2 linked regions of the Homo sapiens genome follow. The protein of the gene in region 1 purifies or fractionates together with the protein of each later gene. This does not show direct contact. Each region holds a gene or a part of one and is shown on either strand. Other genes may lie near its edges.

Region 1 (3,500 bases):
AGATTGAGACCTGGCTAACACGGTGAAACCCCGTCTCTAGTAAAAAATACAAAAAATTAGCCGGGCGTGCTGGCGGGTGCCTATAGTCCCAGCTACGTGGGAGGCTGAGGCAGGCGAATGGTGTGAACCCGGGAGGCGGAGCTTGCAGTGAGCCAGAGATCGCGCCACTGCACTCCAGCCTGGGTGACAGAGTGAGACTCCGTCTCAAAAAATAAATAAAATAAATAAATAAATAAATAAATAAATAAAGTATTATGTTCCTCAGTGCTAATAAAAAAACAAAAACTCTGGGCATGGTAGCTCATGCCTGTAATCCTAGCATTTTAGCAGGCTGAGGAGGGTGGAACACTTGGGATCAGGAGTTCAAAACCAGCCTGGCCAACATGGTGAAACCCGGTTTCTACTAAAAATACAAATAATTAGCTGGCATGGTGGCAGGCGACTGTAATCCCAACTACTCCGGAGGCTGAGGCAGGAGAATCTCTTGAACCCGGGAGGCGGAGCTTGCAGTGACTTGAGATCGCACCATTGCACTCTAGTCTGGGCGACAGAGTGAAACTCCTCCTCTGTCTCAAAAACAAAAACAAAAACAAAAAAAACCCAAAAACCAAAGAAACCAAAATGTGCTAGGATTTTTTTTCCTGCTAAACTGCATTTTAAAATAGACATGCAAGGGAGAAAATGACACCATCCATATTGTGTAATAACCTGCCTGTAAGGGAAATGTGCAGCATCCCTGGGAGCACCAGGAAGCTGCAGGTGAGACTGTGTGATACTTAAACTCATGATCAGCCATGTGCACTTTGACAAATGACAGCTGTAACCAATGAAGTGCAGCAATTTTCGGTTCCCCGCATCAATCTGAGTCCCTGATGGGGTCAATGCATTATGACTTAAATGTTTTATGGTCCAGTGGGTACACCTTAGATGGCACTGTGCTCACCTTCTTCATGTCCTCATAGAAGAGATAGAGAATACGGTGTTTGTCTTTGGCTTCCCACCATCCTTTCACATGTTCATGCCAGGAGCCCCAGCACACTGGAGGATGGGATGGAAAACAGGACAATGAGTCACAGAGGTCCTATTATACCACTGAAAGGAGAATTCCTGAAGAGAAGTGAGAATGTTCCATTAAAGAAGGCAGAGCCCCTGCTGGTCAAAAGAAAAGATTCTTTCCTTCTAGGGTGTTTGGAGATTTTGAGAAACGAAGGGAAACAAAGCTAAATTCTCTCACCTTTCCCAGCCAGAAAAGTCTCAAAATACTCTTCCCATGTTCCTGGAGCAGGAAGAGCTTTATTCATTCTTTGGAAATGGTAATAGGACACCATGTTGTCCTTGGGATTTCTTGCTACATAGATTATCTGGGAATGATGAGGGGAGGGGAAGGGAAGAAGCAAAAAAACAGGAATTTTTTTTTTTTTTTTTTGCTGTTACTGCCCAGGCAAGTCATGTTAGGGTAGATACATTTCATACAGTTCATTTTTTCTGAGGCTGCATTCTTGTCATCCTGGTTATGGGAGACTTTTTTTTTTTTTTTTTTTTTTTTTTTTTGAGATGGAGTCTTGCTCTGTCACCCAGGCTGGAGTGCAATGGCACTATCTTGGCTCACTGCAACCTCTGCCTCCTGTGTTCAAGCGAGTCTCCTGCCTCAGCCTCCTGAGTAGCTTGGATTACAGGCATGTGTCACCACGTCCTGTGAATTTTGTGTTTTTGGTAGAGATGGGGTTTCGCCGTGTTGGTCAGGCTGGTCTTGAACCCCTGACCTCAACTGATCCACCCATCTCAGTCTCCCAAAATGCTGTGATTACAGGCATGAGCCAACGTGCCTGGCTAGGATTCATATTAATTTGCATATTGATTATTGTGAAGAGGTATATATATATATATTTAACAAGTGAAGTGTTTTAAGAGGAAATGGAAGACTAAGGTTGTTTTAAGGAGTACAACTCTGAATTCCTTTTGCTTTTTTACCTTACAGTTTTTCTCTAGCAAGGATGGTGGCAGCAAGTGAAAGGGAAGATGTGTTTTCAGGATCCGTGGTGAGGGCATTGCATGAGCTTGTTCCAAACCTGCAAAACTGGTTTTCGATCAATTTCTACGATTTTTTTTTTATCTATTTGCTTCCAAGTCTTGCTGCTTCCATTATTACTACTACAATTCAAAGCATCTATAAGAACATTGTAACTGTAGATCTGGTGTGAGAGAATACGTCTAGCCTATGAATAGATGTTTTGACTAGAACAATTCCTAACCATAACAGTCATCCAAATAAATAAGAACCTAAAAAATTCAAACCCTTTCACCAGGATTATCTTACTTGAGCTTATTCTTTTGAAGTAAAATTAATTTCTAACTAGAGAAACAAAATTTAACTCACTTTTGTACAAACAGTAATTCCATTAGAAAATGTCTGGAGTATAACAATGGCCAGACACAGTTAAAAAAAGACAAAACCATGAAACTTACCAATAATTGTTTGAAAGCCTATAATTTCGAAAGGTGCAAAGACAGTAAAAATCCTAAGTGCATTTTAGGACTGTAGTGAAGTGTGGCTATTTATACTCACCAGATCCTAAGGATGGGATTTTCATTTCGAGGAAAGGAAATCGTTGATGAGTCGGTGCCCGTTTACTTTTCTCCACATCACCTTCATTTTGTATTAATTCCACTATCTCCTGAGTCCATGTTGTTCCTTACGTGCACGTAAAATGAAGATGAATAGACATCTAGTATAGTACATTCCTTAAAATATGATCAAATACTTGTTAGAACATCTATGTCTTTTGTTTTGTTTTGTTTTGTTTTGTTTTTTGAGACAGGGTCTTGCTCTGTATCAAGGCTGGAGTTCAATGGTGCAATCTTGGCTCACTGCCTCCTGGGTTCAAGCGATCCTCTCGCCTCAGCCTCCTGAGTAGCAGGGGTTACATGCATACACAATCACCCCTGGCTAATTTTTATACTTTTTGTAGAGACGGCATTTTACCATGTTGCCCAGGCTGATCTGGAACTCCTGAGCTCAAGTGATCTGCTTGCAAGTGATCTGCTCGCCTCGGCCTCCTAAAATGCTGGGATTATAGGTGTGAGCCACCATGCCTGGACCATCTATGTGAATTTAAAAGCTAGGTTTTAAATGGGATTCAGAAGATAGCATTCCTTATTTATATCTTATTATCATAATATGATTTTAAAAAAATACTCCAATTTTGAATGGACATTAGACTGATAAATATACATTTATTTTTTTCTGTCACAACTATTAATTTGGATTGTTATTATTGTTCTATTTATTTAGCTGTATTGTCCTTAGAAAGGACATTCTCCCCAAATTGTGATCTGCTATAGAGAAATGACTACATGATTTTCAAACTCTCTTTTTCCCAGTTGCATAGCGTAGGAGACACTTAGTATTTGTTGGCTGAATGAGTGAACCATTAGGGCTTGAACTTGATATTGACCATTAGCACTTAGTATTCAATTTTTCGCCTTTCTCTGTTTCCCCC
Region 2 (3,500 bases), on another chromosome or scaffold:
TTCATTCTTCTTTACTAATCCATCTAGACAATGATGCAGAACAGCAAGGAGAATTTGGGAACCCAGACCCCCACCTTCAGCAGCTTAGCTTTCATGGTGGATGTGATGGTTGTGGGGTTAATAAACTGGAAGGAAGGGGCGGCGTTGTTTGGGTACTGTGCAGGGAACTTCACCAGCATCTTGACACGATGGTTGCTGCAGTGCACAGACACTGTGCAGCTCCTGTCTGCCGCATCCATCTGCAAGAGACAAATCCACAATTGCTGTAGAAACAAACCATAAAGCGTCTTTCGATGCAAGCACATTTAACTGAACGCTCCATGTTCCTGGTAATTGAATGAAGGGAAAGAGTCTACAAAGACAAATGTGTGTGGAAGACAATTCATTTTCAAAAAGATTCTTAAATTTTCATACCAGATTCTTAAAATTTTCAAACCAATGGAATAAGCTCAAAGTTGCTGAGACCAGCTCGGTCGGGGTGACCCTAAACCAGCAGTGCCAGAAGAATTAAAGACACACACACAGAAATATAGAGGTGTGGAGTGGGAAATCAGGGGTCTCACAGCCTTCAGAGCTGAGAGCCTTGAACAAAGATTTACCCATGTATTTATCCACAGCAAGCCAGTGATAAGCATTGTTTCTATAGATTATAGATTAACTAAAAGTATTCCTTATGGGAAACAAAGGGATGGGCTGAAATAAAGGGATGGGCTGTGGCTAGCTATCTGCAGCAGGAGTATGTCTTTAAGGCACAGATTGCTTATGCTATTGTTTGTGGTTTAAGAACGTGTTTAAGCGGTTTTCTGCCCTGGGTGGGCCAGGTGTTCCTTGCCCTCATTCCGGTAAACCCACAGCCTTCCAGCGTGGGCATCACCACCATCATGAACATGTCACAGTGCTGCAGAGACTTTATGGCCAGTTTTGGGGCCAGTTTATGGCTAGATTTTGGGGGGGGGGGGGGCCTGTTCCCAACATGTCCCCCTTCTTTGATTTGCAAAGTGATAAAAGCAAAGGCAGCTTTGTCACGGTGAGCTACTTCTTGCAGGAGTCAAGATCCACATCTGCAGACTACACAAAGACAAACAACACAGAGGGTCAGTTTATGGCCAGATTTCAGGGGGCCTGTTCCCAACACAAAGTATTCTTTTTTTTTTTTTTTGAGACAGGGTCTCACTTTGTCACCCAGGCTGGAGTGCAGTGTGGCACAATCTCAGCTCACTGCAACCTCCACCTTCTGGGTTCAAGTGATTCTCCCACCTCAACCTCCCAAATACTGGGACTACAGGCCACCATGCCCAGCAAATCTTTGTTTTGTTGTTGTTGTTGTTGTTTTGCTTTTTGTGTTTTGGTAGAGATGGGGTTTCGCCATGTTGGCCAGGCTGGTCTCAAACTCCTGACCTCCAGTGATCCACCCACCTTGGCCTCCTAAAGTGCTGGGATTACAGGCATGAGCCACCACGAAGTTCAAAGTATTCTGACTTTAACAAAGCTTCCTCCCTCCCAAAGCTGTGGGGTAGACTGAAACTTGTTATATTTACTTTGAGATGGGAAAATAAAGCAGGAAGAAGTTAAATACCAGACTCAACTTAAAAAGTGCTCCTGGGAAAATCCATAGGGGAAGAAAGTAGATTCGGGATTGCCACGGGCTGAGGGAAGGGGAAATAGGGAGTGACTGCTCATGGGTATGGGGTTTCTTCTGGGAATGATGAATATGTTCTGGAATCAGACAATGGTAATGGCTGTACAACTTTGTGAATATACCCACAACAGCCAGATTATATACTTTAAAAAGCGGAATTTTGGCTGGGCACAGTGGCTCACGCCTGTAATCCCAGCACTTTGGGAGGCCAAGGTGGGCAGATCAACTGACATCAGGAGTTCGAGGCCAACCTGGCCAACATGGCAAAAACCCCATCTCTACTAAAAATACGAAAAAAAATTAGCTGAGCGTGGTGGCGTGCGCCCATAATCCCAGCTATCTGGGAAGCTGAGGCAGGAGAATCGCGTGAACCCGAGAGGCAGAGCCTGCAGTGAGTCACGGTAGCACCACTGCACTCCAGTCTGAGCGGACAGAGCAAGGCTCCATCTCAATAAAAAAAAAAAGATGAACTTTATACTGTGTGAATTATATCTCAATAATTTTTTTAAAGTACTCTCGAAGAAAGGAATCAAGATCTTAAACTAGATCACTAGGTATCCACACTGTCCTCAAATGGGACAAAGGGAGTATAAACTGACTTGATATAGATCACTAATTAAGCAAAGAATCCTTTATATCTTTTCATTTCTTGTGTTGCCAACTAGAGACAGCAGCTGGAGTAAAGAGAAAAGAACCACATGTGGCAAATCTGGAGACCTGGATTCACATGTTGTTTCTTCCACCAAATAGCTGCTGACCTTGGACATTTCTTCTCTTGATGTCTCCGTTTCCTCAGCTGTAAAGTGAGGCTAAAACCACTTACAGCAGACTATTTTTTTTTTTTTTTTCGAGACGGAGTCTTGCTCTGTCGCCAGGCTGGAGTGTAGTGGTGTGATCTCGGCCTCACTGCAAGCTCTGCCTCCTGGGTTCAAGCGATTCTCCTGCCTCAGCCTCGTGAATAGCCGGGACTACAGGCGCACGCCACCATGACCAGCTAATTTTTGTATTTTTAGTATAGACGGGGTTTTACCATGTTGGCCAAGAAGGTGTCGATCTCTTCACCTTGTGATCCGTCTACCTTGGCCTCCCAAAGTGCTGGAATTACAGGCGTGAGCTACCGCACCTGGCCAGCAGACTTGTTTTAAAAGCCACATGAGATAGTTATGTAACAGCACATATTTGGGTAAAGGAAAAACTAATCAAGCTTTAAAACTCCTTTCTGGAGAGATACTCAATTTTCTGAAGCAAAGACTTTCAATACTTGCCCCCAAAAAAGTAACTGTTCCACAGGCTAAGCAAACAAAGAAGTTTTGGTTGCCTTCTTACTGTGAATCTAAATTACCAGGAAATGGCCAGCCTGTGAGAGAAGATGGCACAGCCCAGCACAGCACAGCACAGCACAGCACAGAGTGCCCTGGACGGGCTGGAGGTTTGGCTTCCCAAGTCAACTCTGTCCCCAACTTCAGCAGCAACCTCTGCCAAATCACTAAGCCTCCAGGGCCTAAGTATCTTCCTCTACAGTAAAATGAGATGCTGGAGCATCTAAGGAGGAGCTAAGGCACACGAGCATCAGGTTCTCCTTTGGCTCATCTTAGGAGAAAAGAATAGGGGTAGAAAGAAAGTCTGCATCTCTTTATTTACTTATTTATTTATTTATTTATTTAATTATTTTATTTATTTTTTTTGAGACAGAGTCTTGCTCTGTCACCCAGGCTGGAGGACAGTGGTGCGATCTTGGCTCACTGCAACCTCTGCTTCTCAAGTTCAAGTGATTCCTGTGCCTCAGCCTCTCGAGTAGTTGGAATTACAGGCTAATTTTTTTTTTTTTTTTTAAGTGGAGACAGGGTTTCACCATGTTGGC

What was found. The genes of interacting proteins can lie anywhere in the genome.
Region 2: the proteins of SULT1C4 (region 1) and WDR59 purify together in Homo sapiens (affinity purification with mass spectrometry; one large-scale study listed by BioGRID and IntAct). This does not show direct contact.

Annotation. Positions count from the first base shown.
Region 1 is NC_000002.12:108,380,954-108,384,453, reverse strand, and holds part of SULT1C4 (sulfotransferase 1C4), read right to left. Parts: intron 2,743-3,500; exon of another isoform or gene 2,693-2,742; coding exon 2,567-2,692; intron 2,070-2,566; coding exon 1,972-2,069; intron 1,362-1,971; coding exon 1,235-1,361; intron 1,039-1,234; coding exon 944-1,038; intron 1-943. UniProt on the Homo sapiens protein: Sulfotransferase that utilizes 3'-phospho-5'-adenylyl sulfate (PAPS) as sulfonate donor to catalyze the sulfate conjugation of phenolic compounds.
Region 2 is NC_000016.10:74,912,124-74,915,623, forward strand, and holds part of WDR59 (GATOR2 complex protein WDR59), read right to left. Parts: intron 240-3,500; coding exon 75-239; coding exon of another isoform or gene 24-74; exon of another isoform or gene 1-23. UniProt on the Homo sapiens protein: As a component of the GATOR2 complex, functions as an activator of the amino acid-sensing branch of the mTORC1 signaling pathway. The GATOR2 complex indirectly activates mTORC1 through the inhibition of the GATOR1 subcomplex.